4 linked regions of the Homo sapiens genome follow. The protein of the gene in region 1 purifies or fractionates together with the protein of each later gene. This does not show direct contact. Each region holds a gene or a part of one and is shown on either strand. Other genes may lie near its edges. The genes, in order: CD19, MINDY3, CD9 and CD82.

Evidence for each region.
Region 2: the proteins of CD19 (region 1) and MINDY3 purify together in Homo sapiens (affinity purification with mass spectrometry; 3 studies listed by BioGRID and IntAct, with this or other methods). This does not show direct contact.
Region 3: the proteins of CD19 (region 1) and CD9 purify together in Homo sapiens (affinity purification with western blotting; 2 studies listed by BioGRID and IntAct, with this or other methods). This does not show direct contact.
Region 4: the proteins of CD19 (region 1) and CD82 purify together in Homo sapiens (affinity purification with western blotting, with the first as the bait; 2 studies listed by BioGRID). This does not show direct contact.

The regions. Positions count from the first base shown.
Region 1 is NC_000016.10:28,933,256-28,941,255, reverse strand, and holds the end of CD19 (B-lymphocyte antigen CD19 isoform 2 precursor), read right to left. Parts: coding exon 7,747-8,000; intron 5,827-7,746; coding exon of another isoform or gene 5,813-5,826; coding exon 5,702-5,812; intron 5,104-5,701; coding exon 5,055-5,103; intron 4,745-5,054; coding exon 4,656-4,744; intron 4,234-4,655; coding exon 4,120-4,233; intron 3,986-4,119; coding exon 3,881-3,985; intron 3,802-3,880; coding exon 3,733-3,801; intron 3,633-3,732; coding exon 3,576-3,632; intron 3,488-3,575; coding exon 3,431-3,487; intron 2,584-3,430; coding exon of another isoform or gene 2,581-2,583; coding exon 2,488-2,580; intron 2,385-2,487; coding exon 2,293-2,384; 3' UTR 2,278-2,292; intron 2,116-2,277; 3' UTR 1,914-2,115; downstream 1-1,913. UniProt on the Homo sapiens protein: Functions as a coreceptor for the B-cell antigen receptor complex (BCR) on B-lymphocytes. Decreases the threshold for activation of downstream signaling pathways and for triggering B-cell responses to antigens.
Region 2 is NC_000010.11:15,775,853-15,781,814, forward strand, and holds the end of MINDY3 (ubiquitin carboxyl-terminal hydrolase MINDY-3), read right to left. Parts: intron 5,115-5,962; coding exon of another isoform or gene 5,025-5,114; exon of another isoform or gene 3,997-5,024; intron 3,290-3,996; coding exon 3,140-3,289; 3' UTR 2,322-3,139; downstream 1-2,321. UniProt on the Homo sapiens protein: Hydrolase that can remove 'Lys-48'-linked conjugated ubiquitin from proteins.
Region 3 is NC_000012.12:6,223,238-6,233,365, forward strand, and holds part of CD9 (CD9 antigen), read left to right. Parts: intron 1-731; exon of another isoform or gene 732-981; intron 982-1,026; exon of another isoform or gene 1,027-1,132; intron 1,133-2,188; coding exon 2,189-2,297; intron 2,298-2,901; exon of another isoform or gene 2,902-3,123; intron 3,124-9,394; coding exon 9,395-9,492; intron 9,493-9,699; coding exon of another isoform or gene 9,700-9,768; intron 9,769-10,128. UniProt on the Homo sapiens protein: Integral membrane protein associated with integrins, which regulates different processes, such as sperm-egg fusion, platelet activation and aggregation, and cell adhesion.
Region 4 is NC_000011.10:44,617,635-44,623,958, reverse strand, and holds the end of CD82 (CD82 antigen), read right to left. Parts: intron 5,798-6,324; coding exon 5,594-5,797; intron 5,320-5,593; coding exon 5,236-5,319; intron 4,911-5,235; coding exon 4,833-4,910; 3' UTR 3,601-4,832; downstream 1-3,600. UniProt on the Homo sapiens protein: Structural component of specialized membrane microdomains known as tetraspanin-enriched microdomains (TERMs), which act as platforms for receptor clustering and signaling.

The sequences.
Region 1 (8,000 bases):
GAGAGAGGTTGCAGTGAGCCGAGACAGTGCCACTGCACTCCATCCTGGGTGACAGAGCGAGACTCCGTCTCAAAAAAAAAAAAAAAAAAAAAAAAAAAAAGATGAAGTAAGTTTTACATGCTCAGAGATAAAGAAGAAATTTCTACAACAAAAACAGGGTGGGAGGTCGAGGCAGGGAGCTGTTAACTGGGGGCCAGGAGATAGAGACCAGCCTGGCCAACATGGAGAAACTCCATCTCTACTAAAAATACAAAAATTAGCCAGGTGTGGTGGCACAGGCCTGTAATCCCAGCTACTTGGGAGGCTGAGGCAGGAGAATAGCTTGAACCCAGGAGGCAGAGGTTGCAGTGAGCCAAGATGGCACCACCCACTCCAGCTTGGGTGACAGAGTGAGACCCTGTCTCAAAAAAAAAAAAAAAAAAAAAAAAAAGAAAGAAAGAAAAGAAATGGTGAAAATAATATTAATAGTATACCTACCTCATAGGGTCGTAAAGATAAAATGAATGAATATACACAAACATACATAACATGTCCATAAAATATACATAAAATATTTGAATACAATCCTGCCACATAATAAGTGCTTACTATCTTTGTGAAGTTATTGTAACGATAAAATTTGCTCATTGATATTAGTGCTTAGAACATAGTAAGGTCGGGCACTGTGGCTCACGCCTGTAATCCCAGAACTTTGGGAGGCTGAGGCAGGTGGATCACCTGAGGTCAGGAGTTTGAGACCAGCCTGGCCAGCATGGGGAAACCCTGTCTCTACTAAAAATACAAAATTATCCGGGTGTGATAGTGGGCGCCTGTAATCTCAGCACTTTGGGAGGCCAAGGTTGGTAGGATCACTGGAGCCCAGGCATTCAAGACCAGCCTGGGCAGCATGAGGCATTCAAGACCTCATCTCTACAAAAAATAAAAAATGAGCTGTGGCCGGGTGCGGTGGCTCACACCTGTAATCCCAGCACTTTGGGAGGCCGAGGCGGGTGGATCATGAGGTCAGGCGTTCGAGACCAGCCTGGCCAACATAGTGAAACCCCGTCTCTACTAAAAATGCAAAAAATTAGCTGGGCATGGTGGCGGGCACCTGTAATCCCAGCTACTTGGGAGGTTGAGGTGGGAGAAATTCTTGAGCCTGGGAGGTCGAGGCTGCAGTGAGCCATGATTGCACCACTGCACTCCAGCCTGGGCAACAAAGCGAGAGCCTGTCTCAAAAACAAAAAAAAAAAGAAGAGTATAGTAGATGCTCAATAAATAAGTACTCAGTGACAATGAATAGCATCTTCTAACTAGACTGCTAATTCCTGGGCTGTTTCTCCACTGGGCACCCAGCATGTAACTGCTGAATTAATGATAATTGGGTAGCTGGATGGTGGGAGGGGGCTGATCGTGACGGATCTGTGGGCAGCGGGCAAAAGAGGGCAGTAGGTGAAGGCTAGGCCATGGAAGGGGAAAGGCCCTTTGTTTTATTTTTATTTTTATTTTTTGTTGAGACGAAGTCTCGCTCTGTCGCCCAGGCTGAAGTGTAATGGCACCATCTCCACTCACTGCAACCTCTGCCTCCCAGGTTCAAGTGATTCTCCAACCTCAGCCTCCCAAGTAGCTGGGACTACAGGCTCGCCACCACACCCAGCTAATTTTTGTATTTTTAGTAGAGACGGGGTTTCACCAGGTTGACCAGGCTGGTCTCGAACTCCTGACCTCAAATGATCCACCTGCTTGGCCTCCTAAAGTGCTGAGATTACAAGTGTGGGCCACCGCACCGGGAAAAGGCCCTTTGTATGCAGAAGGCAGCCCTCCCTCTTCCATGGGATTCAAGACGCCTTTCCTTCCCTTCCTTTCCTTCCCTTCCCTTTCCTTCCTTTCCTTTCCTTCCCTTCCTTCCCACACAATGGCACTACTTCATAGGATTGGAAGAGCTCATTGAGTTTATTTAAGGAATACAAAGGGGACTGGAAGTGTCACTGGCATGTATACACACACACACACACACACACACTTACACACATGCACACATCCTAAGCAACATTGCTCCAGAGGTTGGCATCATCTGCTCGAGGTCTTCAGATTTCAGAGTCAGGTGTGAATCTTGGGGACTTGAGGAGATCCAGGCTATGCAGAAGAAACGGTGATGGGGAGGGGTCCAGCAGTCCTCCCCCTGCCCACCAGGCCCTAGGAACCCTGTTCCCTCTCCCTCCCTGAAAGCCAGCAGCCACTGCCATCCGTGCCTATCTCCCTCCCTCCCCGCTTTCCCTAGGGGCAGTCCCAGCTCACCTGGCCACCTGAGGATCACCTGGTGCTCCAGGTGCCCATGCGGCCCCCTCCTCCCCAGGCTGGGTCTGGCCCATCGGGATTATCCATGTTCTCATAAGAGTCTGCATCTGGATAGGACCAGGGAGGAGGAGAACATGGGTGGCACTGGAAGTAGGCTGGAAGGCAAAGTCAGCCCAGGGGACAGCAGGGGACAGCGGCAGAAGCACCCACCTTCCTCATGATTGGGTCCAGGCTGGCCCCGAATGGAGCGGAGCTGGGGGGCTGCATACAGGATTCCTCTCATATCCTCATAGGACTGGGACCCTGCTTGGGCGGGGGATGGAGAATTGGAGGCTAGGGCATGGGAAGTACAGCCTACGGTAAGGAGGAAGACTGAGGGGCAGAGGAAGGTGAGGAGCATTACCCATGCTGTGCTGGGAAGGGGTGATTTGGTTAGCATTGAGTTTGGGGCCCCAGTTAGCTGTAGGGTCAGGGTTAGATATGGGTTAGATTATGGCTAAGGAAGGGGTCAAGAACAGAACTGGGCTGGGCGTGGTGGCTCATGCCTGTAATCCCAGCACTTTGGGAAGCCAAGGCGGGCAGATCACTAGAGGCCAGGAGTTGGAGACCAGTCTGGCCAACATGGCGAAACCCTGTCTCTACTGAAAATACAAAAATTAGCCAGGTGTGGTGGCAAACGTCTATAATCCCAGCTACTCAGGAGGCTGAGGCATGAGAATCGCTTGAACCTAGGAGGCAGAGGTGGCAACTGCACTCCAGCCTGGGCAACAGAGGGAGACTCCGTCTCAAAAAAAAGAAAAAGAAAAAGAAGAAACTGGAGGGAGTCGGAGTCAGAGTCATGAAGAAGCTGCAGAGTAAGCTGGGGTCCAAGTTGAGGTCTGCACTGGGGCTGAGGTGAGGTGGAGATCAAGTCCAGGCTGATACTGCATTGGGATCGGTGTTGATATTCACAGTTAGGGAGGGGGTAAATATTGGGGGTCAGGATGGGGGATGGGGCTCAGGATGGGGGATGGGGCTCAGTGTTGAGGTGAGAGGAGTCACAGGATTGGGTTCGGGTTTGGGGTCAGGGTCAGGTCAAAGTTGGATCTGGTGTCAGAGCTGAGGCCAGGTCACCCAAGCTGGGCAAGGCAGTCTGATTGAAAGCATCTCTCACCCAGGGAGGTTGCTTCCCGGCTGGGGTCCCAGGCTGACCCATGAGGGCTCAGGAAGTCTGGAAAGGGAAGAGGGAGGTTACTATTCCTCCTGGCCTCCAGGTGTCCTCCGCCTCCCCCCTGGACTGTTGCCATCCTCACACACACCCATTGTCCTGGCGACCGGCTGGGTCAGCTCTTCATCCTCGTTCTCATAAGACTCAGCTGTGGCAGAAGAGAGAGAACTCCAGGGACCCCTTCTAGGAGTGTCACAGCGCTGCAATTACACCTAAGTCTCTGAGGTCCCACAAAGGCCCCAAGTTACCGTTGGAGAAGGAGTCTTCATCCTCAGGACCCAGGGGCTCATCCTCAGGGTTCTCGTAGCCGCTGCCATCTGGTGGAGAAGGAGGGGTGTCCATGGGAGTCCACAGGCCACCGCAGAGGTGGGGGGCCACGGGGGAGGGCAGCCTTACCCTGGGAGAGCTGGTCCTGCCCAAGGTTGGAGTCGTTCTCATAGAACTCGGAGTCCTCCTCACTGTCAGGTTCCTCATAGCCCTCCCCTTCCTCTTCTTCTGGGCCTGGGGGTTTGGGGATGGGGATGGGGAACCGAGTCATGCCCCCTCTCCTCCAGGGCCCAGTCCACTATTCGGGCCACAGACCGCTCCAACCCCCTCCATGTGGGGAACGACCCTTCCCTCTCCCAGTCATTCACCCACTCCCGGCGGGCTCCGGGACCCCAAGGCTCCATCCGCCTGGACGTCGCTGCTCGGGTTTCCATAAGACGGGGCAGTGCCCCCCAGGCCTGCGGCCCAACGCTGGGCGCGTCCTGGTGAGAGGGGCATTGTAAGACGGGGTCAGAAGAGATGGGGGCGGTCAAGGCTAAGGGTCCGCGCGGCGGGGCACGGGAAGAGGATGTTTTGGGCTCTGCGAATGGACTCTGGGTCTAGGAACCCGGCCTTGAACCCTGGGGCGGAATCTAAATCTAGGGCCGAGGCCTTCAGTTCTGGGGCGAAGTTCTGCTCTTGATTACGACTTCAGGCTCTGGGTCCTGGGGGCGTGGCTCTGAGCCCTGGAGGCGGGGTCTGGTTCTAGAGGCGGGGCTCATAGCTGGGCGGGACTCCCCGCCCCGGGGGCGGAGTTCCGAGCTCCAGAAGGCTTGGCGCACAGCGGATTGGAGGGATGAGGAGAGTGGGGGTGGAGCCCCGGATCTGGGGCGGAGCTATAGGCTGGAGGGGCGGTGCCTCTTACCGAGGCCTGAGGTGGGTGTGGGGAGAGACAGCACGTTCCCGTACTGGTTCTGGGGCCCGCTTCCTGGGGGAGGCGTCACTTTGAAGAATCTGGCGGGAGAAGAGGAAGTGCACGGTGAGGGCCGACTTGGAATGGAATGGCGGACCCACTCAAGATTCTGTCCAGGCCTTCAGAAGTTAAACGTGATCACTTGTGCTGGGACAGCCAATAGAGGAGTCTGAGATGATCATTTCCAAGGAGTTCTTCACAGAGGAGGTAGCTTTGGAGCTGGGCTTTGAGGTTGGGCAGTATTTGAAACAGTAGAGACGGAGCAAAGAACCCCTGGGCAGAGGAAACAGTAAGTGCAAGGCATAAAGTGAAGGTGGAGGGTGTTACCGCGGGGTGCACTGGTTGCATTACCTCCTGGTGGGGTCAGTCATTCGCTTTCTTTTCCTCCTCAGGACCAGGGCTGGTGGGAGTTAAAGGGCGTGATCAGAGGAGGGGCTGCTTGGCAGGGTGAGGATTTGTGGGGCCAGGTGCTGGGGAGGTCACTTGGTTCAACAAAGGAGACAGGAGTTCAAATTGCGAGGCGGACGGGCGCGGTGGCTCGTGCCTGTAATCCCAGCACTTTGGGAGGCCGAGGTGGGCGGATCATTTGAGGTCAAGAGTTCGAGACCAGTCTGGCCAACATGGTGAAACCTCGTCTCTACTAAAAATATAAAAAATTGGCCGGGTGTGGTGGCATACACTTGTAGTCCCAGGTACTCGGGAGGCTGAAGCACAAGAATCACTTAAGCCTGGGAGGCAGAGGTTACAGTGAGCTCAGATTGTGCCACTGCACTCCAGCTGGGGTGACAGAATGAGACCCTGTCTCAAAAAAAAAAAAAAAATTGCAAGAGGCTTGGGAAGTTTGAGGGAGGCTAGAGGAAGACTGGGGAGAACAGGATTCTGGGGTCTTGAAGGGAGGGATGGGAGGAAAGAAAGATGGTTGTCAGACTGGCCAGAGCCGGCTTATCCTGGGGAAGATGGAGTAGGGTTTGGACAGACCCACTGGGGACATGACTCACCTCTTTGAAGATGAAGAATGCCCACAAGGGAACACAGGCAGAAGATCAGATAAGCCAAAGTCACAGCTGAGACCTTCCAGCCACCAGTCCTCAGCAGCCAGTGCCATAGTACTAGGGGGAAGGGGCTATGAGACGAGGACCCCAGGCTGGCATCTTACGTCCCAATCCTGAGATCTCAAGGAACCGCAAGTCTGAGGCACAGAGGCAAGACACAGACTCGGCCGGGCGCGGTGGTTGACGCCTGTAATCCCAGCACTTTGGGAGGCAAAGGCGGGTGGATCACCTGAGGTCAGGAGTTCGAGACCAGCCTGGCCAACATGGTGAAACCCCATCTCTACTAAAAATACAAAAAAATTAGCTGGGCATGGTGGTGGGTGCCTGTAATCCCAGCTACTTGGGAGGCTGAGGCAGGAGAATCGTTTGAACCCGGGAGGCGGAGGTTTCAGTGAGCCGAGATCACTGCACTCCAGCCTGGGCAACCACAGCAAAACTCCGTCTCAAGAAAAAAAAAAAGACACAGACTCAAAGTCCCAAGCTGTGAGAAAGGCTCTCCTCTCTCTAAGGAGCCATGTCCCAGGAGGTCAGGGATTGTCACAGACCCTGGCACAGGACATGGGGCAGTGTCTTTGAGCAAATCGTGGACAAACCATGGCTGTACTCAGAGGCAATGTGTGGATTGAGGGGAGCATAATGATCAGTTTCCTGCTGCAATTAAGGATAGTCACGGTCAAAGTGAAGGGCAGAGTTGAGTTTGCAAGGTTACAGTTGGGATCCAGCACATTGCTTGGATCAAGTTTGGAGTGAAAGTTGGGGTTGGGTTTGTGAATTGCAGTTAGGATAGCATGATAGGATTGCATGGAGAGAGAATTGGCAGAACACTGTGACCAGTTTGTTGGACGGGGTGAGGAAAAAGAAGGATGCCCAGGTTCTTAGCCTGGGCGAGGGAGCAGGTGGTGGTGCCCTCTGCTTACACTGGGCCACCAAGAAGACTATACTTGGGGAAGACATTGAGTTTGATTTTGTATCTGTTGAGCCTGAGGTGTCCATGGGATATCAAATGGCACAGGAGATGGCTGAGTATGGAGCCTGGAATAGAGTCACCAAGGCATGGTGACCCAAGAAGCCATTGAGAGTCAAGTTCAAATAGGAAAGTGTGCAGACAGGGATAAGAAGAGGGCCCAGGGCTCCAAGAGTGAGGAGTTGGGGAGGAAGGAAGACTCCACCCAAGCTGGTGGGCAGGCGCAAGCAATGGTAGGTGAAGACCCAGAAAAGTAGTGTCTTGGAAGCGAGGGAAGAAAGACTTGAAGTCTAGGCCAGGTGCGGTGGCTTATGCCTGTAATCCCAGTACTTTGGGAGGCCAAGGCAGGCAGATCACCTGAAGTCAGGAGTTCAAGACCAGCCTGGTCCAACAGGGAGAAACCCCATCTCTACTAAAAATACAAAATTAGGCTTGGCCCGGCCCTGTGGCTCATGTCTGTAATCCCAGCACTTTGGGAGGCCGAGGCGGGTGGATCACGAGGTCAGGAGTTTGAGACCAGCCTGGCCAACATAATGAAACCCCATCTCTACTAAAAATACAAAAAAAATTAGCCAGGCTTTAATCCCAGCTACTCGGGAGGCTGAGGCAGGAGAATCACTTGAACCTGGAAGGTGGAGGTTGCAGTGAGCTGAGATCGTGCCACTGCACTCCAGCCTGGGTGACAGTGCAAGACTCCGTCTCAAAAAAAAAAAAAAAATTAGCCAGGCGTGGTGGTGGGCACCTGTAATCCCAGCTACTCAGGAGGCTGAGGCAGGGGAATCACTTGAACCTGGGAGGCGGAGGTTGCAGTGAGCCAAGACAAGATGGCACCACTGCACTCCAGCCTAGGCAACAGAGCGAGACTCTGTCAAAAAAAAGAAAGACTTGGAGTCAGTGTTCTGTGTGGAAGTTGGGGTTTGGGGTGAGGCTGGGAGTAGCCCTCGGGTTGGGGGAATCTAAGATTGACTGGCTTCCACTTCTTCCCAGTACCCCCACACAGATGCCTCCCAGTTGAGAGAAACTCTACCTGGCCGAGCAGTGATCTCCAGGTGGAATGACATGGTCAGGTTGCCACGGTGACAATAATACTTTCCAGCGTCTTGAGCTGTGGCCCGGGGCAACAACAGACCCGTCTCCATTACCCACATATCTCTGGCCGGGCGATCGTCCTTCAGCTCTAGGCTCAGCAATGACTTAGGCCCCTTGGGGTGCACATGGGTCCAGGAGAGGGGGCCCCTGGACACAGAGTCAGGGGGTACCCCACAGGACAGCCAGAGTGTG
Region 2 (5,962 bases), on another chromosome or scaffold:
CCATGTAGCATAATGTTTTCAAGGGTCTTCTACATTGTAGTCTGTGTCAGTAATTCATCCTTTTAAAATGCCAAATAAGGTTCCATTGTATATATATATGGATGTTCTTTGACTTACTATGGGGTCATGTCCTGATAAATCCATCATTAGTCAAAAACATCGTAAGTCAAAAATGCATTTAATACCCTGATAAACCCATTGTAAGAGTTGAAAAATTGCTAAGTTGAATAATTGTTAAGTCGGAGACCATCTATACTATATTTGTTTATCCCTCTATTAGCTGATCAACAGGTTGTTTCCACTTTGTGGTTATTATGAAATAATACAGGTATGAACATTCACAAAAAGTTTCATGTGAATATGTTTTCATCATTTCTTTTGGTGATATACCTGGGAGTTGGGATTAGTGAGGCATGTGCCATCTCTGTATTTTTTTGAGCAGCTACAATACTCTTATCTGACGTGTCTTCACCATTTTACATCCTCACCAGCAATGTATGAGGGTTCCAATTTCTCCCCATCTTCACCAACACTTGCTTTTGCAGATCTTTTTTATTTTAGCCATCCTAATGACTATGATGTGATATCTTATGGTTTTCACTGGTATTTTTCTAAGGATCAATTGGTGTTTCTCTAAGGACCAATCTTCTTTGGGGGAAATGTCTCTTCAAATCATTTGTCCATTTAAAAGTTTTTGTTGTTGTTGTTATCAGTTTTTTATATATACTGTATTCAAATCCCTTAATATAATTTGCAAATATTTTCCCCACTCTATGGGTTGTCATGTCACTTTGAGGGTGTCCTTTGACACACACAAGTTTTTAATTTTAAGTCCAATTTATCTTTGTTGTCATTTGTGTTTTGTATCTTATCTAAGAAACCATTGCCTAACCCAAGATCATGATCAACTCCTTTGTTTTCTTCTAGGGATTTTATAGTTTCAGCTTTTATAATTAGATATATAATCAATCATTTTAAGTTACTTTTTGCAAATGGTGTGAGGTAGGGATCCAAATTCATTCTTTTGTATATGGATATTCTTTTAGGATTTACTTCCTCTTATTTTGGGTTTGTTATTGAGATAAAAGCTTAGGTTCCCAATTTTCAAATGTTTTACTTTTCTAATATATCATATTTAATGCTATATATTTCCTTTATTTTTGCTATGTCATATTTTCATTAACACTCAGTAGAAAGTATGTTCTAATTCCCATTGCAATTTCTCTTTGACCCTTTGGTAATTCATTAGTGTGTCACTTAATTTCCAATCTTTTGAGATTTTCTAGACTTACTTTATTGCCAGCATATAATCTAGTTTGGTAAGCAGCCCAAGTGCATGTGGAAAGGAAATGTTCCCATGGCTATTTAAATGTAGTGTTCTACAGCAATGATATCAAGCTAAGGTCCAGTCATGCTTGCCACGTGAGTAGAGACAGCTTCAGAAAATTCTAGCCCCTGGCTGCTGACTGAAGCAGACAAGCCATGCATCCCCACCTTGCCCCGTTTAGATTCCTGAGCAAAGAATTTGTACATTTAATCAAATGGTTGTTTTATGCCATGAAGTTTTGGGATGATTTGTTGTGTAACAATGGTAAGAGGACCATTCTATTTCATAGGCTTGATGTTTATGAGACAATCTACGATTTTGTGTAATCCTTTTGGAATTTGGGATTATTAAACCAGAGTTTTGAGAAACTAATTCTAGCATTATATATTTTATACAGATTTGGAAGTAGCCTAGACCAAAATATTGACATTTGAAAGCTGTAAGTTTAATAAGTAGTATCATACTCCTGAACAGAATGTCACCAAAAGTTATACACAAAATCTCATGCCTTTCCCTATGCTTAATTATATTGTAATTGTGTGTGTGTACGAAAGAAAACAAAACCCAAACAGAAATTCACACAGGAACTATACTATTGAAGGTAATGTTCAGTTCTGAAATGTGTAAGAGGATACTACATAATTATCTGCTTTACACGTGGCTTTACACGTGGAGGAAAAAAAGTATTAATGGCTATGTGATTTTAAATTGCTGGGCCACAAACCTATCAGAATACAGCAGATCTCTCTCTCAAGTAAACGGGCTTCTGCATCTTTGCTCACTGGTCTAGAAAGCTGCCATGTGGGTTCTCATGCTTCTGGCTGGCTGAGTTAGCAGAGCTCTTAGGTTAGCATAAGGCCTGGTCTCTTATTCGAGGTCCTGTATGACTTAGCCATTTGTAGTACTCTGTGCTCTCAGGGTTATTGGGTAGAAACATTTAGAAGTACGTATTTGTTTATTTTGAGCCACCAATGTAAAAAATGCAAGGGTACAGTTAAAGAAAAAGGTGTTTATTTAGGCCATCAACTAGGATCATAATAAATAACGTAATATACTAATGTAATAACAGATCTTCTCATGCATTTATCGTGTTTATAAATATAGAAGAAAGCTGGCTTACAGGGCTGTTGGGACAAATTTGGAAAAGTGTATTTGGCAATTACACAGTAAAAGTTAACAGTGTTGACTATCAGATTCTCTTTTCTGTCAGTTTTTAGAATACATCCCCTATACATCTGTGAATAAATGGTAATGGTCTCTTAGAGTTTCTACTTTTTGTGAACATGCCAGAGTTAAGTAAATTGTCAAAGGATCCAGGTTGACAATGTGTTATTTGTCAATATTTCTAATGAAAAACAGATCTTAGAAAAATGAACTCTTCTGCATTTCATTGTAGAGGCTGATATATTACAAGCCGGAATCATTCAAACAATAAAAAAAGTGCCTCAATGAAATAAAACCCAAAAGTAGTTTATCAATAGTAACTGTGATACTTAATATACAAATGCTGTAGTATTGCGTTTGTAATTTGGTAAGTAAATGACCAAGTATCTGAATGCAAAAGTGATGAACTTTGATGAAAGCTTAATTTTGCTAGTAAATTTCACACGAAGGGGTAAAATAGGATAATCTTTAACATAAAGCTTTAGGACAAATAATTTAAACATATCATAAACACTGAAAATGTGTTTTTAATTGTTATTTACAGTTAATCAGTGATACCAGTGTTTAGCTTAATCCAGCCAATTGCCAGTCTTGACTCCTTCTTTCAACATCTGTTATTAAGATCTTCCTTATAAATACTTAGACAAATTAATTTAGTGAAGGAGAGCGATCTGTGGTCCAGAGTAACTCAATGTATGGCCATTTGGTTTGCAGACAGCGTTTAATAGGAGTGTCATCTGTCTGTAGCATGGGATCTTCAAAACCCATCACAACTGCAGTCCCTTCTACGTACATGACCTGTTGAACAAAATAAAGCCACCAAGGTCAAGCAACAGTCTTAGCAAATTCTTATGTGGAATGAAAACAATTTTTAGAGGCTAGCAAATAAGGTATTACATAGTTTCAGATGAAACTTGACATGTAATTTTATTTTGCTAGAAATGAGAAGGAATATCTGCTTACTGATTAATGTGAAAGTAAATTTGTAAACGATATTTAATTGCTAGCTGGCCAGGTGATTTTTAAAAAATTCAAGATCATGTGAATCCTAAAACACATAGATTGTTTCTAAGAAAAAAAACATTCTTCAACGGATCTATACCATCGGAAAGAAATGCTTAATTATCATATTTACATATAATTTATACAGGTCCTACTGCTTTAATACTGAGGTTCTCAGATGCTCATGCTGCCTAATGAAACGGAGAGCTATAAAAGGAATATAGCTATTATGTTCTGAGGAACATGTGTCTCCTTCTAATTTAAGTATTGAATTTCTAGAGCTGAAACCAATTTGAATGTTTGTCAACAAAACTTGCTATTATGGTATTAAATATTCCTGAAATGCAATTCATGAGTGCATTCTGTACAGCATGAAAAATCATGGAGAAAAAAATTAAAAAGGATGTCAGGACAGAAAGAAAAGTAAAAGAGACGTTGAAAGATCAAACTAACCAGATACTGTATATGCAGTGGCAGTGATCACAGAAATATATACTGGCAGGTGAATAGCAAGAAAAATTTTATTCTGATTAATTTACAATGAAACATACTTAAAAAGTATTTTGGACATATCAACAAAAACCCTAACTCATTACCAAGGGCTCACTGTGGACATTAAGGCACTCCTTGGTGGTTAATTTCTTTTTTGTACCAAGAGAAATTCTGATGCTGTATAATTTAAAAGAAACAGATACAGACGACTGTCTTCTTCCAAAGTGTATAAAATTATTTTTACACATTCACTGGCTGATACACATGAGTGTAATTATGTTCTTCCAAAATAAAAGCCATAAGCTATTTAAGGAGCCAAAAGAAACAACTTTATTATCCTTAAATGGTAGTTGCCTCTAAAACACATTAAATATAGGAATAGAATATATTACTAGATCAGATAATCTTGTGTCATGAATCTACTCATTCCTAAGAAAGTGCTAAAGATACATTGTAACGTGAAATACATTTTTTGGCATCTTTATTTTAGTTAATATATTAGTTTCTAGTGTTGATGAAATAAATTGACATTGAAACTACAACTCGGGCTTTTCAGTCCCCAAAGCAAAACTGCCTTCTCTGAAAAGTTATACACAAAGAATATAATTCAAGTTATTAAGTTAAATACAATCGGCCCTATTTTTCACAAAGAACTTCATGTACTCATGTCATTAGAGCAGAAGTGCTTGGGCAAGGTGCCATGACCCACCTCCATGGCCTCAATCAGGCTCGGATGCCTGGCGGCTCAGACTCCATCTCACTTTGCCAGCATTCTCCTTTTGTCTGTTTCCTTTCTAACAGGACCTTGCTATGCAGCTTATAATTTTAGCTCCTGATTAACTTCAAAACATATTTCTGTGACTTAATGACATCCATACTTTGCTTTATAGCTGCTGTATATTACTGTCATTTTAACAGTTCATCCTATTTGTTTTCTAATCTTTTTGTTGGTGTGTCAGAAGCTTGTCACAAACATGATTTGAAAACTTATACTACATACAGGTAGAGTGGCCAAGCAGACCAAGGACAGGATTGGGAATCAGGAACTCAGTTCCAATCCCTGTTCTGCCAATGACTTGCTGTGTGACCCTGGGTGAGTCACTTGATCTCCCCGTCTCAGATGCCTCATCTGTAAAATATGGATAATATTTGACCTATCTTGCAGGGATTGTGTAGGTGAATAATTAGTGATTATAAAGTACCTCCTATTACAAAGCTGTGCAAACATCAAACTCTAGATGAAGCACTCATTCGCACATTAGAAAACAACATCCAAGTTTGCATATATATATACATGCAAAGAATATACATTGTCAAGAAAATTTGGATGCTGTATATATATATCTTTGGACCTGACAAAAACATCTAATTTATATTTTGTTATAAAGATAGCAGTAAATTTTAGTCTTTTAGATTTGGTCTAATTAAAATTATGTACTTAATTTACACTGTTTTCTGTAACCTTCCACAATTTAGATACATGAAGTCAGCATGGGCAGATCAAATTAAAAAGGAATGTTAGACCTTATTCCTTTAATATTAGCTATAACTAATACATATATATTATATATATATATATATACTATAACTAGTATGTACTGTAACTCATACTTGAATAAATGCAAAGATAATAGACACACAAAAAGGGGAAATCAATGCAGCCGAACTCTAGCTTTACGCCAGGTTGAGTACACCTGGCAGTGAATCACCTATGTGCTTTGTCAACGGTTAGCAAAGGAAAGCTGCAAAGCATCATGGGTAGGAGCATGGTCTCTGAGCTGGACTAAGTTTCACTCCCAGCTCTGTCATTTCCTGGCTGCTTGACCTGTAAAATGGAGATATACAGACAACACTTCCTTCATAAGGTGCTGTGAAACTTAAGCAAAGTACTTAATACAATTTCGGGTAAATGCTCAATATATGCTGACTATGAAGGTTATTTATTTAAAAATATTTTTTCCAGTAAAAAGTCTCACT
Region 3 (10,128 bases), on another chromosome or scaffold:
GGAGGGAAGGTATCACCTTTGTACTTTTTTTTTTTTTTTTTTGAGAGGGAGTCTCGCTCTGTCGCCCAGGCTGGAGTGCAGTGGCGCAATCTCCGCTCACTGCAAGCTCCGCCTCCCGGGCTCACGCCATTCTCCTGCCTCAGCCTCTGGAGTAGCTGGGACTACAGGCGCCCGCCACCACGCCTGGAGAATTTTTTGTATTTTTAGTGGAGACGGGGTTTCACTGTGTTAGCCAGGATGGTCTCGATCTCCTGACCTCGTGATCCACCCGCCTCAGCCTTCCAAAGAGCTGGGATTACAGGCGTGAGCCACTGCACCCAGCCCACCTTTGTACTTTTAATGCTCAGGGACCTGGGGGGGGACCCAGGCCAGGACTTGCCATGTACAGAGTCAAGACCGCCCAGTGTGTGCTTGTCTAGTCCCTTGTGTACGTGAATTCAAGCCACATAACTCTTCTAGCCCAGCACGCTCCCAGCAGGGCCCGCCTCCCCGCCTAAGCTAACTGCAGTGCTCTTGGTCGGGGAACCCATGGTCTGAATGCGAGTACCCTGCTGGGTCCAGGACGGTGGAGACTCACGCTTCTCCCCAACCAAACAGTGATCTGCTTGCTGCCTTTGGATTAGGCCAGGAGACCCTCCCTCACTGGCCTTTTATTAAGAAAGAAAATCAGACTCGTCTTTGAACTCAGAACTCTCAAGTTCATTTGAACTCTCAAATTCTTGTGCCTGTGTGAGTTTTTCTCCTCTGCCTTGTCCAGCCGCGGGGCATGTGGCGTCGTACAGTCCTTACCAATGTTTGGAGCTGCCTGCCCTAAGGTGCGGCTGAGAGGCTGAGAAGATGCTGAGTGACAGTCCACAGGCTGGGAGTGCAGGGCTGGTGGGGCTTCATGCTGGTAAAGTGAGGTGGTTCTCCCAGAGCCCATTTGGTACCTTCCTCTTCAGATGCACTTCTGATATTATCTTCTTTATTCTTTAGCCATACCTAAAAGGCAGGGAAGGGCCGCATCTCACAATCCCTGCTTTACAGATGGGAACACTGAAGCAATAGAATATGAAGCTAGACTCTGCAGCCCCTCGTGGTGGAAGCACACCTCCCTGGCAGGAGCAAATCCCCTTATGCTCCTGGGGGGTAGGTGAGTTTGTGACTGCTGCAGGCGGAGGTCTGGGTGGCCCTTCCCACTATTGCCACATCTGCTGTCCACCCAACATGCCCACACTCACTGCCATATCGTAAGGGAAAGGAGAGGAGGAAAGGAGGAAGGAAAGAGAGGCCTGTCCACACCATGGGCTATCAATAGCTCCTGGAGCCGAGAACCAAGGTCCCTGATGAGCGGGCTCTGACATAAGAGTGCCTCTGTTGAGGAGGGTGGACCAGCAAAACCTGGGCCCACCCACTCCTGCGTCCAGCCGGCTACCACACTGGAGGCCTGTGAGTCACTCCCCCGGCAAGCCCTGGTACGGGTGACGACGAGGGAGCTCAGCTGGCACTGGGGGGACTTGGCAGGAGGCCTCCTGCACAGCATCTAGTTCAGCAGTGCCAGCGAGGGGAGGCCCTGGCATGTCATTTACTGAGCAGCAGGTCTCCAGGGACATTGCAGCTGCCCTCCCTGGTGCATGTGTGTCCGGAACTGTGTAACCATCACCCAAGTCAACAGTTAGAATACGACACCCCCAGCCACATGGCACCTCCCTGAGCATAATTTCCTCCTCCACCTAAACATCACCACTCACCTGATAACAATGCTTTTCCTTTATCATTTATAGGCACATGTAAGCGTCTAGCTCTGTGTGCATCCCTAAACAGCATAGCGTTTTTAACTACATGGAATCATATTGTGTGTGTGCCTGTGGCTCTGGCTTCTTGGTTTAGCATTGTGAGATGCACTCATGGTGTTGCGTGTAGCTAGAGTTACTCGTTTTCACTGCTGTATAGTGTTCTGTTGCCTATAAAATACCCCTTCAGCCAATGGGCGGCAGGTAGGTCACTGTTTATTCCTCGCTTGCTGGTATTTTTAGTACCTGCATGAATCAAACACACCCCGTAATGGCATCTACAACTACCAGGCGTATATGAGGGGCAGAGACCAAGGGTGGTCACAAAGTCCTTTGCAAGTCTCACCCTTAAGCGCGTGGGGACTGTGTTGTTGCTGGCAGCCAGAATTAATGCTGATGTCCTGTATGTCTTGCAGCTTGCCGGGATTGCTGTCCTTGCCATTGGACTATGGCTCCGATTCGACTCTCAGACCAAGAGCATCTTCGAGCAAGAAACTAATAATAATAATTCCAGCTTCTACACAGGTGAGGGACGGGGAAGGCTCAGTGAATTCAGACCCTGGCTCCAACAAAGTTCCTGCAACTTTGGAGGCCCCATGTTGACCCAGGGACTTGGGCTTGGGAAAGACTTTTGCTCTAGCCACGCTGGCCAGTCGTGTCCCTTTCAAGTTGTGCAGTTTTTGTGTGTGTCGTTGTGCCTGGGAATTTGCGTTTAACTGATGTGGTTTCTTTTCCTGATGGCCAAGTCAGGCATGTTGATGGTTCTCTGATGTGATGTAGCCTCTGCCAAAGTTGTACTCATTCTTGAGGGTTTACGAACCTCTGTTCTCATCTCTGATGCTCTCTCCTGATTGTCTTCTTATCCTGCATCATTTCCTTAATTCAAAAAGCTTTGTCCTGGGGATCTGCAGTGCTGGAAGAAGATATAGACAGCTTTCCTCTTCACTGTTCAGATAGGGACTCTGAGACTGGGAAAAACATCAGCCTCCTGGAAAACACAGCAACAATAGGAGAGACTAGAATGGACTCTGCCCAGTCCTTTGGACCCCTGGTACTGGGGTAAATGCTGTAGTGTTTAGTTTTATTTGTTTGTATTTGACACGACTTTTGCTTTGGGAGAGAGGCTTCCAGTTTAAACCTGCCTGGGATCCTCTGAACATGAACAGACTTGGCAGGTTTCTTTCTACACTCAGGCTTCTTGGCAGCCTTGCTAGACCATTCTATCCCTCTCGTTGCCGTATCACCACGTCAAAGCTCCCTTCAGAGGAGGGGGAGCCTGGTGCCTGCCAAGTGCAGTTGCCCGCGTCTGCGTGAATTCAGACTCTGCGGCTGTACTCTGCCTGGCTTGGAGGTAGGAAACTTTTCATTTGTGAGGAACAAAGGAAACCTCCTATTTTTAGGATGACGCTGACATGTTGTCAGGCTCAAAATGTAAGTTTGGTCACTTCCTTCCCACCCACCAAAAAAGTTATTTTTACAAACGAGGGAGAAAACAGTTATCTCCCAGTCCCTCAGGGAGAAGCAAGGCTGGCCAGCCACGTAGACCTTCCCTTTCCCACCTCTTGAACTGGGTAGGGAGAGTCTTTAAAAACAGCTCCTTTGGTTGCGTAACATTTGAGCCCTGTGGATAGTTTTGCTGGGTTTACTGCTTTTTATTGTTAGCTGGGGTTTTTTGGGGTGTGTCTCTCTATTATCGGAAAGAAAGTGAGAGAAAGCACAATGTATGTTTAGAAAAAAAACTACACATACACACAGAGTTTTTGGGGAACAGGTTTCTATAGCGCCCTGACTTGTTTTGGCAACAGACCATTTTTTGGGAGTCTGTGACAGGCTTAGAATGCTGTCCTGCAGAGCAGGAGGGAGGAGCCGGGTGCGGGTGCTGGGGAAGACTCTCCACACTCCACGCCGTGTTCCAGAAGGGAGCCCTGTGCTGGGGGAGCAGGTCTGCCGGCAGGAGCAGGCACAGTCAGGCCTGCTTTCCTAAGCAAAAGCCCTGTGGCCGGCGCGTGTGTCTCCAAAGAGAGACTCAGTCCTCCCTTGTCCTGGCTGCTTCTAACAACCCACTTTTTCTTTTCTGTTACCCAAAGCCTCTATGGCTGATTCTTTATATTTTTAGATGTGGGAGTTAAGAATCTCATGGGTAAGAGGATGGAACTGGGAGGAAGACACTAACATTTTTATTTTTTATTTTTTTTATTTTTTTTTTGAGACGAAGTTTCAATCTTGTTGCCCAGGCTGGAGTGCAATGACACAATCTCGGCTCACCGCAACCTCTGCCTCCCAGGTTCAAGCGATTCTCCTGCCTCAGCCTCCTGAGTAGCTGGGATTACAGGCATGTGCCACCATGCCCAGCTGATTTTGTATTTTTAGTACAGACGGGGTTTCTCCATGTTGGTCAGGCTCGTCTCCAACTCCCGACCTCAGGTGATCCTCCCGTCTTGGCTTCCCGAAGTGATGGGATGACAGGCGTGAGCCACCTCGCCCGGCTGGAAGACACTAACATTTTTGAGCCCCCTTCTTTGTGTGTCATTCATTGTCTTGTGTGTATTATATAATTTAATCCCCTTAGCTCTACGAGGAGTGTGGAGTGATTCTCATCTCACAAGTGCAGAAACCGAGGCCTAGAGAGCTGAAATAACTTGTCTAAGCTTATATTCCCTCAAGAGGCAGGGCCAGGTTTTGAACCCAGGCCTAAAAGAGCTGCTTCTCGGGTTGTCATTGCCAGGTTGTGGGGTCTCCCTCTGTAGGAATGGAAGAGGTCTGTACTGGCTGAATGTGCCCCATTGGCAGGGATGGGGTGGCGCTGTCTTGGCCCTTTTACTTCACCCAAATTGCAGTCAGGGAGAGAAACCCCTGCGTCGGTGGCCCAGCCAGCAGCTGACAGGTGGGAAAGCTGCAGGGTGGCAGGAGAATGGTGAGTGCCATTAGAGGAGCTGGGGCTCACCTCTGGGAACCTCACAGGATTCAGATCCTGCAGGTCATTGCAGGGCCCTGCTGGTGGCCGGTGGTCCTACCTGAAGTGACCAGGAGGGTGATTTGAAGGCACAACCCCAAAGAGACACAGATCCCCTAGTTGGGGTCTAAGGGCCACTGTCCACTTAGCTCTGCCAGGGAAATACAGATCCTTTGCAGCGACACCCCATTCGGGGAAGAGAGCGGAGCTTTGAAGACTTCGTTCTGCCTGCAGAAGCGCCGGCAAGGGGGATGATGCACGGTAAAGTTAGAACAGCAGCACTGTGTCTGGGCACAGTGATCAGCCCTGATCTCAGGTGATCCGTCCGCCTCAGCCTCTAGCACTTTGGGAGGCCGAGGCAGGCAGATCACCCGAGGTCAGGAGTTCGACACCAGCCTGGCCAACATGGCAAAACCCCACTTCTACTAAAAATACAAAAATTAGCTGGGCGTAGTGGCGTGCACCTATAATCCCAGCTACTCGGGAGGCTGAGGCACAAGAATCTCTTGAACCTGGGAGGCAGAGGTTGCAGAGAGCTGAGATCACACCACTGAGGCTCTGTCTCCAGCCTGGGAGACAGAGCGGGACTCCATCTCAAAAAAAAAAAAAAAAAAAAAAACAGCAGCACAGCACTCTGAGCACTGCTTAGGTCTGAGCTATGCCCTGAACGTCACTGAACGCTTTAGGAAATAATAATTGTCGTCCATGGGCAAAGGGCCAAGGAGGCGTCGCTCTGTGTCCCCTTCCCCACGAGGCTGTGAGACCAGCCTTCTGTACTGGCCCAGAGCCCTTCTCCTAGCAGATGAGCTTGGAGTGCCAGCCACACCCTGGCTACTTTTCCAAGGAATAGTCATGGGGTGACCGCCCCTTGCACTGGGCCACCAACTGTCTGCAGAGCAACCCACAGGCCAGCCTGACCATGCAGCTGACTTTTCAGGAAACCTGAACAGCCCAGGGGTGTCTTTTCTCCAGTGGGGCCACAGCTTACCAAGTAGAGAAAGAGTATATAACCAGGCAGAAAAGCAAGTGAAAACCTTTCCAACATTCAGAACAGTCTATGGTAAGTCCAGAGCAGCTGACAGCCTTATATGGGCCTTCTCTCCAATCCAGGCCTGGAGATTCAGCCCGTCAGCAAGATCCCTAATCCCAGGCTGCAAACTTGTTGGGGAACTTCATTTTCTTGGTCCTAGGCCAGCAGCCTTTCCCAGCTCCCTGGTGTCCCTCCAGAACCATGGCTGCTGAATGAGGGCATCTAGGGGGGCTCCAGCCAGAGGCCGTGAATGCCCCCCCTTCCTCGGCCAGCCCCCTATCCATGATGAGGTGCCTGGTGATTTTCAGGACACGCGACACTTGGCCTTAGTAAGCTGGCATCCCCATCCTGGCTTGTGACCTGGGGCAGTTCATTTTATTGCTCTGGGCTTCATTTTTCTCCCTCCTGAAACCAGCACAGCTTACACAACCACAGCACAGCTTACACACCCACTCCCCTCTGGGGCAAAGAAGTACAGCGTGTGGCAAATGGAATTCCATTGTGGCACTTATTCCCGTGAACTCGGGAGGGCGGGAACCAAGACGAAACCAGTCGGGGCAGAGGTAGGGCTCCTTTGAACACCTGGTGGAGTTATTTGGATATAATAAACTTTTATTGCAGGCCAGAGGCCCTACCGGATTTTGTTCTCCTTCACACAAACGGGCGTGGTGAGTGCTGTTTGCAGGACAGAGCTGGTGTAGGGACGGGAGCCTGCTGTGTCCTCTCCCTGGGCTAAACTGAGAGCCCTGGTGAACAGTGAAAAACACTGTTCCATTTCTTGTGTAAAGGACACGCTGGCATATGCTACTGCTGCTACACCAGCCTTTCTTTTTTTTTTTTTTTTCTGGGCCTGTAATGTCAGCCTGAAAAAAGCAGAATAAACAACCCTTAAGCAAATTAATACCGTAATCCTAGAGAAGGCTCTGTGATGGATAACTTTTTCCATGAGTCAGACAGCAAGCTAACATTCGCTTGTTTTATAAAGGGGAACACTTTGTCATTTATCAACAGCAGCCTTGGCTAACAAGCTTGGGGTGTAAGCGATGAGTAGCTTCTCCAAAGGGAAGCACTGAATAGCCCTTGTAAAAACCAGCCCGAGCCCTGCAGTGGTTCCGTGACTTCCATGGGGCCTGCTTCCAGATGAGCTGTCCTGTAGCTTGCCGGCTGCTGCTGAGTCCCCGAACACAGCTGCCAGGGGATCGCTTCCCTTTTCCCGTGACTAGAGAGGGCTAAAGCTAGGCACTGCAGATCCGTAGCCATCCACGCAAGATTTAAAGCCCACAAAACCCGTGATCCTAAAATCTTCCTCTGCTGAGCCCTAGCATGAATATTTAATATTAACCACAAGCCCCATTAGGAGCATGTTCTCTTTCTCTGCGTGGGAAATACTTTCTCTTTAGTAGCTCACTTGCAGCTAATCCAATTCCCTTGGCCTCTGCCAGGACCGCCAGGTTCAAGAACTGGGATCTGGACTTAGAGAAAACATGTCTGCCTGTTCGTTCCCACTCCACGGTATTTCATGTGTTTGTAAATCCTTTTGATCTCTTAATACCTCCTGTTTATTCAGCCCCTGCTATGGAGCTCAAAGGAGTGACCTCATCCTTCCTTGACTTGCCCCCATTAGATGGGGAGAAACTGGGGCCTTTCTACTGTCCCCATGTGAGAGAACCAAAGGAGGCTGCCCTCTTACCCAGTGCTCCATGCATGGGGCTGCACAGCCTCCCCAAGCCCAGCTTGTGGCCTCAACAGCGTTTGACTGCCCAGGAAGATGCGACCTGACTTGAGGACAAGCTACATTTGTCCCCTTGCCCAGTGTGGGCCAGGCATGCACAAGAACAATACCCATATTCTTGCAACATGGGGTTTGCCAGTAACCCCACGTGACTTGACCTCACGACGGATGTGGGGGAGAAGGGGGAGGAACAAACGCTCTCTGTGTGCATTCTGCTCTGTGCTGCCCGTGAGCCTCAGCTGCGGGCAGACTGCATGGTTTGTTGCCTGCAAAGTCTCACCCCTGCTCGGGGTGCAGATGTGGGACAGTGAAGTCAGCGTGTCACCTGCCGAGGGTTCTCATCGAGTGTCCTGCTGTGTATTGTGGGGAAACATCACAGACTTTCTCTCTCGCGTGCGTGTTTTCAGCCCCTACATCAAGGATATCTCTCTGGTCCCAGTGAAAGGACAGTAGGGATACAGCAGCAGGTTAAAATTCACCATGGTGATTATTAATGATTGTTACTCATGCTTGGTATAATTGAGATTAACAACAGCTAGCATTTGTTGTGCACATGTGGATTATATCACTTAATCCTCACAGCAATCCTGGAAGTGGGCATTATTGCTACTCCTGTTTTACAGATAGAAAACTGTTGCACAGAGAGGTTAAGTGGCTTCCCCAGAGTCACAGATCTGGTGCTCTCGACATGTGACAGTAGCCTCTCCCAAGGCTAGATAGAACATGCCTGCAAGACAGGGAGGCACAGAGACTTTGCTGCTGGTTTTCCTTTGGGACCCATGTAGGGCTGGGGTGCTGATTAAGGGAATAGTCCCTGCAGGACAGCTGTGGCTTCTCAAGAATAGAACTGTGGGGTGGCCCCTCTGGGCATTCCTTTGGTGGGTTGTGGAACGAATGGGGCCAGTGCTGCTCTACTGTTTGTGTCCCAGGAATTTGCATTGTTCTGGGTTTGGGCAAAAGTTATAGAAGTTGCTGCCCTTCTCTCACCTCCTTTCCATGAGCCACTCAGATCAAGGGCTTAGTAATGGTGTCACTCATCCTCTCCTTAGCAAGGAGGAGCCTCTTCACCCTTAACCTGCAATAACTGAGTTATGACTGTTAAGATCTTGTTAGCATGCTATAGAGATCTTTTGAAATTTCCAGGAACATACCTCTTTAATTTTACTAGTAAGGAAATTGAGGCCCAGAGAGGGAAAATGTCTTACCCCAGGTCACACAGCAATTAGCATCAGTGTTAGGGCCAAAAGAAGGGTCTTCTGACACCCAGATCTGTGTCCTTTGCACTAGAGTCAGGTATTGGACCTTTGCCAAGAGGTGCCTTTGGGTGTTCCTAACTGTATGTGCCTAACCACCACCCAGCAACAGGGCAAAGAGGCCCGCCTTCTGGGAACAGGCAGAGTTGGTTCCCCCCACCCCTGGGTAGGGGGGTGCCTAGGTGTGCACGGCCCCTTCCTGCTGGAAATCTGCTCTGACAGCGTCCTCTGTAAGGCAGGGTCCCAGAAGTTAGCCAGAGTGTGGAAGGTATATGCTAACTAGCTTGAGTGGATTCATCTTGCTGGAAAGAGCTGACAGACTGGACCAGTTTGCATTCCGAATGTAGGGATTCCCGTGGATATTCTCTGTCCTGGATTGAGGGCTAATGGGCACCTTCCAGAAGGGCTGAGGGTAAGGTAGGAGCGTGAGCTTGATGAAGCAGAGTCATGCAAGAGAGGCTGGTGGGAAGGAGACCTGGGGCAGAGGTGGAAGAGGAGGCTGTATTTTAAGGAAAGGGAACTTCTTCCCTGAGATGAGGGGAATAAGGAGGTGGGGAGGCAGGAGTTAGGCAGAGGGAAACAGGAATTGCCGGAGATGCCTGGGCCTCTGAACTGATGTCTCCACGCGTGTGTGCTTCCTCTGTCCTCCCGCAGGAGTCTATATTCTGATCGGAGCCGGCGCCCTCATGATGCTGGTGGGCTTCCTGGGCTGCTGCGGGGCTGTGCAGGAGTCCCAGTGCATGCTGGGACTGGTGAGTATCCCCTCGGCATCCCCACAGCCACCCTGACTCCCACCAACAAAAACCTCAGCAGGCCCAGACCCAGACCACAGAACAGATGGAGGGGGATGGGGTCAGGAAGGTACCCAAAGGGCATGAGCTGTCCTCAGCCTGGGCCCCTCCCCGATGTGAGGCGTCGCCCCTCTTCCTTTCTGGAGCCTGTCTTATCGCTTCCCCTAGGCAACTAAAAGGACTATGTTTCCCCCTTTTCTCGAGGACCACGTTTGCTTTTTTTCCCTGAATCCACAGGTACCTTTGCCTTCTCCTTCTTGTTTCAAAATCTGTTTTGGTCTTTTCCGAACTCCACGGAGTGGATTCGCTCCCTTTACTTGCCCAAATCTCTTGTCTTTTGTGAACAATAGTAGTTGCCTGCTCACTGACTCTTAACTAACGCCTTGTAAATGCTAGTTCTGGGCTCAGCTGTGCTCAGCTCTTTCCTCATGTCCGGGCACCTTGCCTCACTGTGGCCTCTGTCCTGGGCTTGGTTAACTGCCTGTTCTGTGAACTTCTTCCCTGCCCCTGCTAGGCTATTCATTTGTGTCACCAGATGCCTGTTCCCAGGGAGTTGTCCTTCTTCCTTGTCCCAAAATACCCTTTGATTTTCCTGGC
Region 4 (6,324 bases), on another chromosome or scaffold:
TGGGCCAATCAGCCATCCCTGCCCCGGAGGCACCAAGGCCCAAAGTCCTCCCGTGGGCCTCATTCCTACTCAGGGAAGGTATCCCCCAGAGGATGGGAAACCTCCCCTTGAAGCTGGGGCCAGTCCTGGAATGGGCTGCTTGGGGAATGAGCTCACTGTGTACGTGACCGCATTTGGCTCCCACAACAGCACTGGGAGTGAGGAATGAGAGTCCCCATTTTCCCGATAAGACTAAGAGAGGTGAAGTTGCACAGCCTGTCACGTCCAGTGGCAGCTGCTCTGATTCTATTTGATTTCAGTTGGGAAGGGGATTGCCAGGGCAATGGCTGATTCCTGCACTGTGGCAGGGGCGATGAGCACTTCCTCCTACTTTCCTGTTTGTTCGACGCGCTGTTCATTCTACTTCCTTCCACAGGAAGGGGCCTTGGATGGGCCCCAGGGATCCCACAGCAGCACTTGGCTCAGACTGTGCTGTCAGCAGTCGGCAGTGTGTGCTGGTACGTACCTGTGTACGTGTGGCAGGGTGTGCTGTGTGCATGCGTGTGCTGTGTGTGCACGTGTGTCCTGGTGCATCAGTTGTGTGCAAGAGTCTCTACACTCATCAGAATGCAGGTGCCATGTGGGCAGGGGGTTTGTGTGTGTTCACTGCTGTGTTCCTAAGATCCTAGAACTGTGCTTCACAAATAGTCTGTGCCATTAAGTATTCATGGGATGAATGAATGAATAAATGAATAAACCTTAGCCTACAGCCTCTAAAGACCCCAGAGAACAGCCAGACATTTGCCCCGAGGCAGCGTAGCAACCTGGGTCTCTGTCCTTCTGCAGGGGAGAAAGGCGATGGGAGCGCTGGCCCAGGAGATGCCTGTTGGCTAGATGCTCCAGCGTCACCAGTGTGCCCCTCCACCCGGCTGCTCTCAGCCTGGGGGACCTGCTCACCTGGAAGATCATCTGGGGCAGAGGCTGGAGGCAGCTCTGCTAGGAGACAGGATGGTGATCAGCGGCAGAGGGGGCTCTGCAGTGTAGGCCCGGGAAGGCCAGGCAGGAAGACACTTGGCTTTCCCTGTTCACTACGGGCCACCCATGGCTTAGTCTCAGGGAAGAAGAGCTAGGGTTCCTCCCAGCTGGGAATGGACTGAGCCCTCAGGGGCCTTCAGGGCCTCGAGTGTGTGCGTGTGAGAGAGTGCATGCATGTATGTGCACATGTATCAGGCTGCCATTCACCAGTACTCACCCAGCCAGCCATACCAGTTATTATGAATAAAATGGAGAAATATTTCCACACCAGTTGAAAATTCCCCCCCAGCTCAATCTCTCAGAGCTCCTGCACCTCCCGCCAATCCATACGTAAGGATCCCATTCCAGCTCAGGCCTGACTTCCATACCTATTGGTCAGTGGCCATGCCAATCAGTGCCCCCCAAAGTCCAGCTCCCTGAACACATCCTAGGCACTGTCTCTAACCTCCCACGGGAGCCCAAAGAGCAACCCTTTGCTCCAGCCATTCTTCCTGGCTGCCCCAGGGAGCTGTGGGTGGGCACTGCCAAGGAGCACCCTTGTACTCTCCTCCACATGGTACCCATGTGCCAGTCCTTTGGGCCTGTCAGGGCCCTTGGCAGGAGAGATGGCAGCCCACAGAGGGCCCAGGGAGGGCAGCTGGAAGGTGTGGAAGCCCCAGATGGGCATGGGACAGATTAGTGGCTGCAGGGACGATTCTGAGTGTTAGACATGGGTCTATGTTCCCTCCCTCCCAAAACCTCACAGGCTGGGAGTAAGTGGGTTGCTGAAACTGGGTGCTCCCCAGGAGGTTGAAATGAGGAACCCAGCAGGCTCAGAGCTCACAGTGACCAGATTTCACAAAAGCGAGGGTCAGAGCCTCACACTACACACGTCCTGGGGCTGTTCTGGGAAATCTGGAAGGGCAGGAGCCAGTGGAGCCAGGAGGATGGTCTTTGAAGTCAGATACGTGGGGTTCAAATCCTGGCTCTGGCCCCTTCCAGCTGTGAGCTCTGGGCAGGATGGACGTGTCAGAGGAAGCAGCCCACCCCTTCGCTAACTTCTGACGTTTTCTCAGTCCTCTATTTTGCAAACAGCTTTGAGCCCACCCTCAGCCTGCCAGGCCCCGTGTCGCACAGGAAGATGGAGATGCAGCTGGACTCAAACTCAGGTCCCCTTGCTCCCAGTGAGAAAGCATTTATGAAAAGACACCCAACAGCTCTCTGCTACCCTTCCTGAGGGTGGAAGCTGTGGGGGGCCAGGGAAGTCAGGCCAGGTGGAACCATCGACATTTTCCTCTCCTGCCCCCATCCCAGAGGGAGGCGACCAAGGCCACAGAGGGACCCACAGCCGACCCCACCGCTGACACCTCCTCAGCTGCCACATTCGCTGAGAGGTCATCACGTGGCTTGGGACAGACATTACTCCAGGTCTGAAAATCTTCCGGAATCAACGCAAAGGGGTGCAAATAGGCAGATTCCTTGTCCCCACCCTAGATCTGCAGCGCCAGAATCCTTGAGCCTTGGAATCTGCATTTTCACAAGTGCTTCCACTGGAGTGGGACGCTGGCAGGCCCCGCGTTGGCGAAACTGGGAGTAACCACGGAACCTTTGGGCTCTGCCGGGCTCCTAGGCTGAGGCTGCAGCGCCGCCTGGTGGTCCCTGCTGAAACACCACTCTAGCCGCCGCCCCGCCTGGCCCCACTGCAGGGAGGCAAGAGTTCCCCTCCCCACTGGCTCCAGAAATGAGAGAAGGTGGGGCAAGTGCCCTCTGGACTTCATGACGCCGGGCAAGGGGCATGCTGGGGCTCAGTCGTCAGAGCCGTGCACAAGTAAGAGCAAGCTTCTTTTTCTTTTTCTCTCTCTCTCTCTGTCGTTTTCTTTTTCTTCCTTTCTTCTTTTTTGACAGATTCTCGCTCTGTTGCCCAGGCTGAAGTGCAGTGGCACAATCTTGGCTCACTGCAACCTCCATCCCCCGGGTTCAAGCAATTCTCCTTTCTCAGCCTCCTGAGTAGCTGGCATTACAGGCGTGCACCACCACACTCGGCTAATTTCTGTATTTTTTGGAGAGATGGGGTTTCACCATGTTGGCCAGGTTGGACTCGAACTCCTGACCTCAAGTGATCCACCTGCCTCAGCCTCCCAAAGTCTCACATTTCATCTTAAAAAGTCCCCTGAATTCTGCACATCTTACTCCATCACATTTCTTTAGTATGAAAATGTTTCCTTCCACAAATCTTTGCAGAAACGGATGCTCTAGAAAGCGATGCCAAGTTTATCCTGTGGCTTCCCTGTCCCCCATCACCAGCCCACTTTTGTGCAGCTTCTGGGGGCACCCATACCCTAGTTTCAGAAGCAGGAATTGAGAGGTACAATCTATACCTCTCTTAGCACCAAATCAAACTCCAGGCACCCCGGCATGCAGGCAGGCCCATCAGAGCCTGGCCCATCACGGTCCTAAGGTTCAGGCTGCAGAAGCAGATGCCTGCGGGGAGGGCAGAGCAGTGAGGGGTCCAGCAGTCTCCAGCAGACCCAGCCACTCTGCTCACACCCTCTGCCCTGGGTCCTCCCCTGCCCCAGGAAGCAGCATCCCTACCATTCCAGACTAGACTGTTATAAATCCTCTTTAATAGTCTTAGAATCTTGAGTGTGTTTTACAGAATGGTGCACACAAAGCCCCCTCCCCTCTCCCCCTACAAGGCACAGCCTCACCCACCCCACTCCCCAGGGGCCAGAGGACCGCTTGCCAAGAAAGGCCAGCCCACCTTCTCCCAGGAGAAGCCATCCTCCTCCTCCCCGCCCCTGGCCAGCTCCGGACCCTGGAGAATACAGGACCAGCTCTGTGCCATGCCCCCAAGGACTCACCTGTCCCTAAGCAGCTCAGGGCCAAGCCAGATCCCCTTACCCAGGCAGACCCCCTCCAGCCCAGCTCCCCTAGGCCGTGTCCCTAGGGCATGGCCTAGGCTAATCTGAGCTGTCTAGATGGACCTGCATCAGGCCTGGGGAAGGGGTGCCACCCCTTAATATCAGGTAAAACCCACCCTCTCCCCTCTCCCACTGCCTTCAATATAATTGTGAAAAATAAAGATATAAATGTCATAGTGGGAAATAAGTTGACCCACCCAGTAGGCAGTCTCCTGACAGCCCAGAGTGCCTTATCTAACGCCCTTCCCTCCCCAATTTTTTTTTTTTTTTTTTTTTTTTTTGAGACGGAGTCTCTTTCTGTCCCCCAGGCTGGAGTGCAGTAGCACGATCTCAGCTCACTGCAACCTCCGCTCCCGGGTTCACACCATTCTCCTGCCTCAGCCTCCCAAGTAGCTGGGACTACAGGTGCCCGCCACCGCGCCCGGCTAAATTTTTTTTGTATTTTTAGTAGAGACGGGGTTTCACCATGTTAGCCAGGATGGTCTCGATCTCCTGACCTCGTGATCCACCCGCCTCGGCCTCCCAAAGTGCTGGGATTACAGGCGTGAGCCACCGCGCCCGGCCCCCTCCTCCCCAATTTTTCATACAGTTGCCCCTATACAATATACACACCCTTGAGGGCAGGTAGAAGTCCAGCCCACCTGCGCCAGGGACGCTGTGGGGAGCATTTTTCTCTGAGTTGCTAAGAGAACCCTGATGGGCGGTGAGCAGAGGAACCACAGAACAGCCAGGGCTCAAGGCTGGCAGCGGATAGGCCAGGAGAGATCGCTAGGCCCCAGAAAGCCCCCTACTTTCAGTCAGGATGGGCAAGAGGGTCTTCGCAGTGAAGTGGGAGGCAGGCCTGGAGGAGGGAGCCAGGGAGACCCCTGGGAGCCCTGAGGTTGGGGGCCAGGCAGGGAGATGGGGATAGCAGCTGCCTCAGTACTTGGGGACCTTGCTGTAGTCTTCGGAATGGACGTGCCGGCACAAGCAGATGGACAGGACCATCCCCAGGAGCTGTGGGGAGAGGCGGAGAGTCAGAGGGAGGCTGGGTGTCCCGGCCTCAGACGCCCCAGCCTCACCATCCAGGTTTACATGGGGATTAAGTGGATCCTCAACTTGAGCCTCACAACCACCCTGTGATGCAGGCAGCAGAGGGAGGCCCAGAGCGGGGCAGTGCCTTGTCTGAGGTCACACAGCCAGACAGTGCTCAGACCAGAGGGCCTCTGGAAGCTGATGGGGTGCTGGCCCCCTTGGCCACCACCTCCCCAAGGAGATCAGCAGAACAGAGACAACCCAGGAGGACCTGGGATGGAGAAGGGATGGGGGAGGGGGCTCAGACCTCGATGATGGCCACACCCACGCCCACGCCGAGGATGATGCCCAGGTTCTCCTGCAGCCACGCCTGCACCTTCTCCATGCAGCCCTGCAAGGGCAGAATGCGGTCACATCACCCCGCTCTGCACCATCCCACCCCGCCATGCAGAACCACCGAGAGCCCCCCAGTCCCAGCCCGGAAGCCCCTACAGAGGGCTCTGCCTGTTCCTTGAATAAATACATTAACAAAGAAGTAGATGAAGGTACAAATGACAGATGAATTAAGGGAAGGAACTAAATGCAGGAAGGAATTGCTGAGCAGTAGCCCAGATGGCCCCCAACGCCCTCGGAGCCCCGCCCCCGATCCGCAGCCCCCCGCACACCTCCTGGTACACAGGCCAGTCCTCAGGGTGGTTGCCACTCTGGGTCCTGTTGCCGGGGGCCTCGCAGAAGCCCTTCCTCACAGAAAGGCTGTTGTCCTCTTCCCCCTTGACTTCGCAGGAACAGGGGTAGGTGACCTCAGGGCGATTCATGAGCTCAGCGTTGTCTGTCCAGTTGTAGAAGCTGACCCAGCCGCAGCACTTCACCTGGGCAAGGCAGGGGACAGACTGCTTGTGCTCACGGCTCACCCTAGGCAGGCTGCCCTCCTGGCAGAGGGAGGACCTCCCCAGGACAGAGACTGAGATATGCCACTTCCAGGCCCCTGGTCCCAGCCGAACCATCATAAACTACAAGTACAGCAGAAAAATCAAAACCAGGACCAGCAAAAATACAAAGCAGAGTAGGAAGGAAGTTCAAGTTGAAGGAGCGCAGGTGTGCAGGGCACAAGGAGAATGGACGGCAGACAGTTCACAGTGCAGGGTTTAAAGTCAGGCTACTGGGTTACAATCCCAGCCCTGCCGCCTACCAGCTGAGCAACCTCCATCAAGGAACTAGCCTCAGTTTCCTCATCTGTAAATGGGGATAATTAAAATCCCCAACTCACAGGGCTATCACAAGGACTAAATGGGATGAGGCAGGCAAAGTACCAAGCATAGGTGTGGGGAGCACAATAAGCTTAGGAAAGGCCGTTCAACTTTAGTGCAGGAGTTGAGATTTGCCTCTGAGCTTCCTG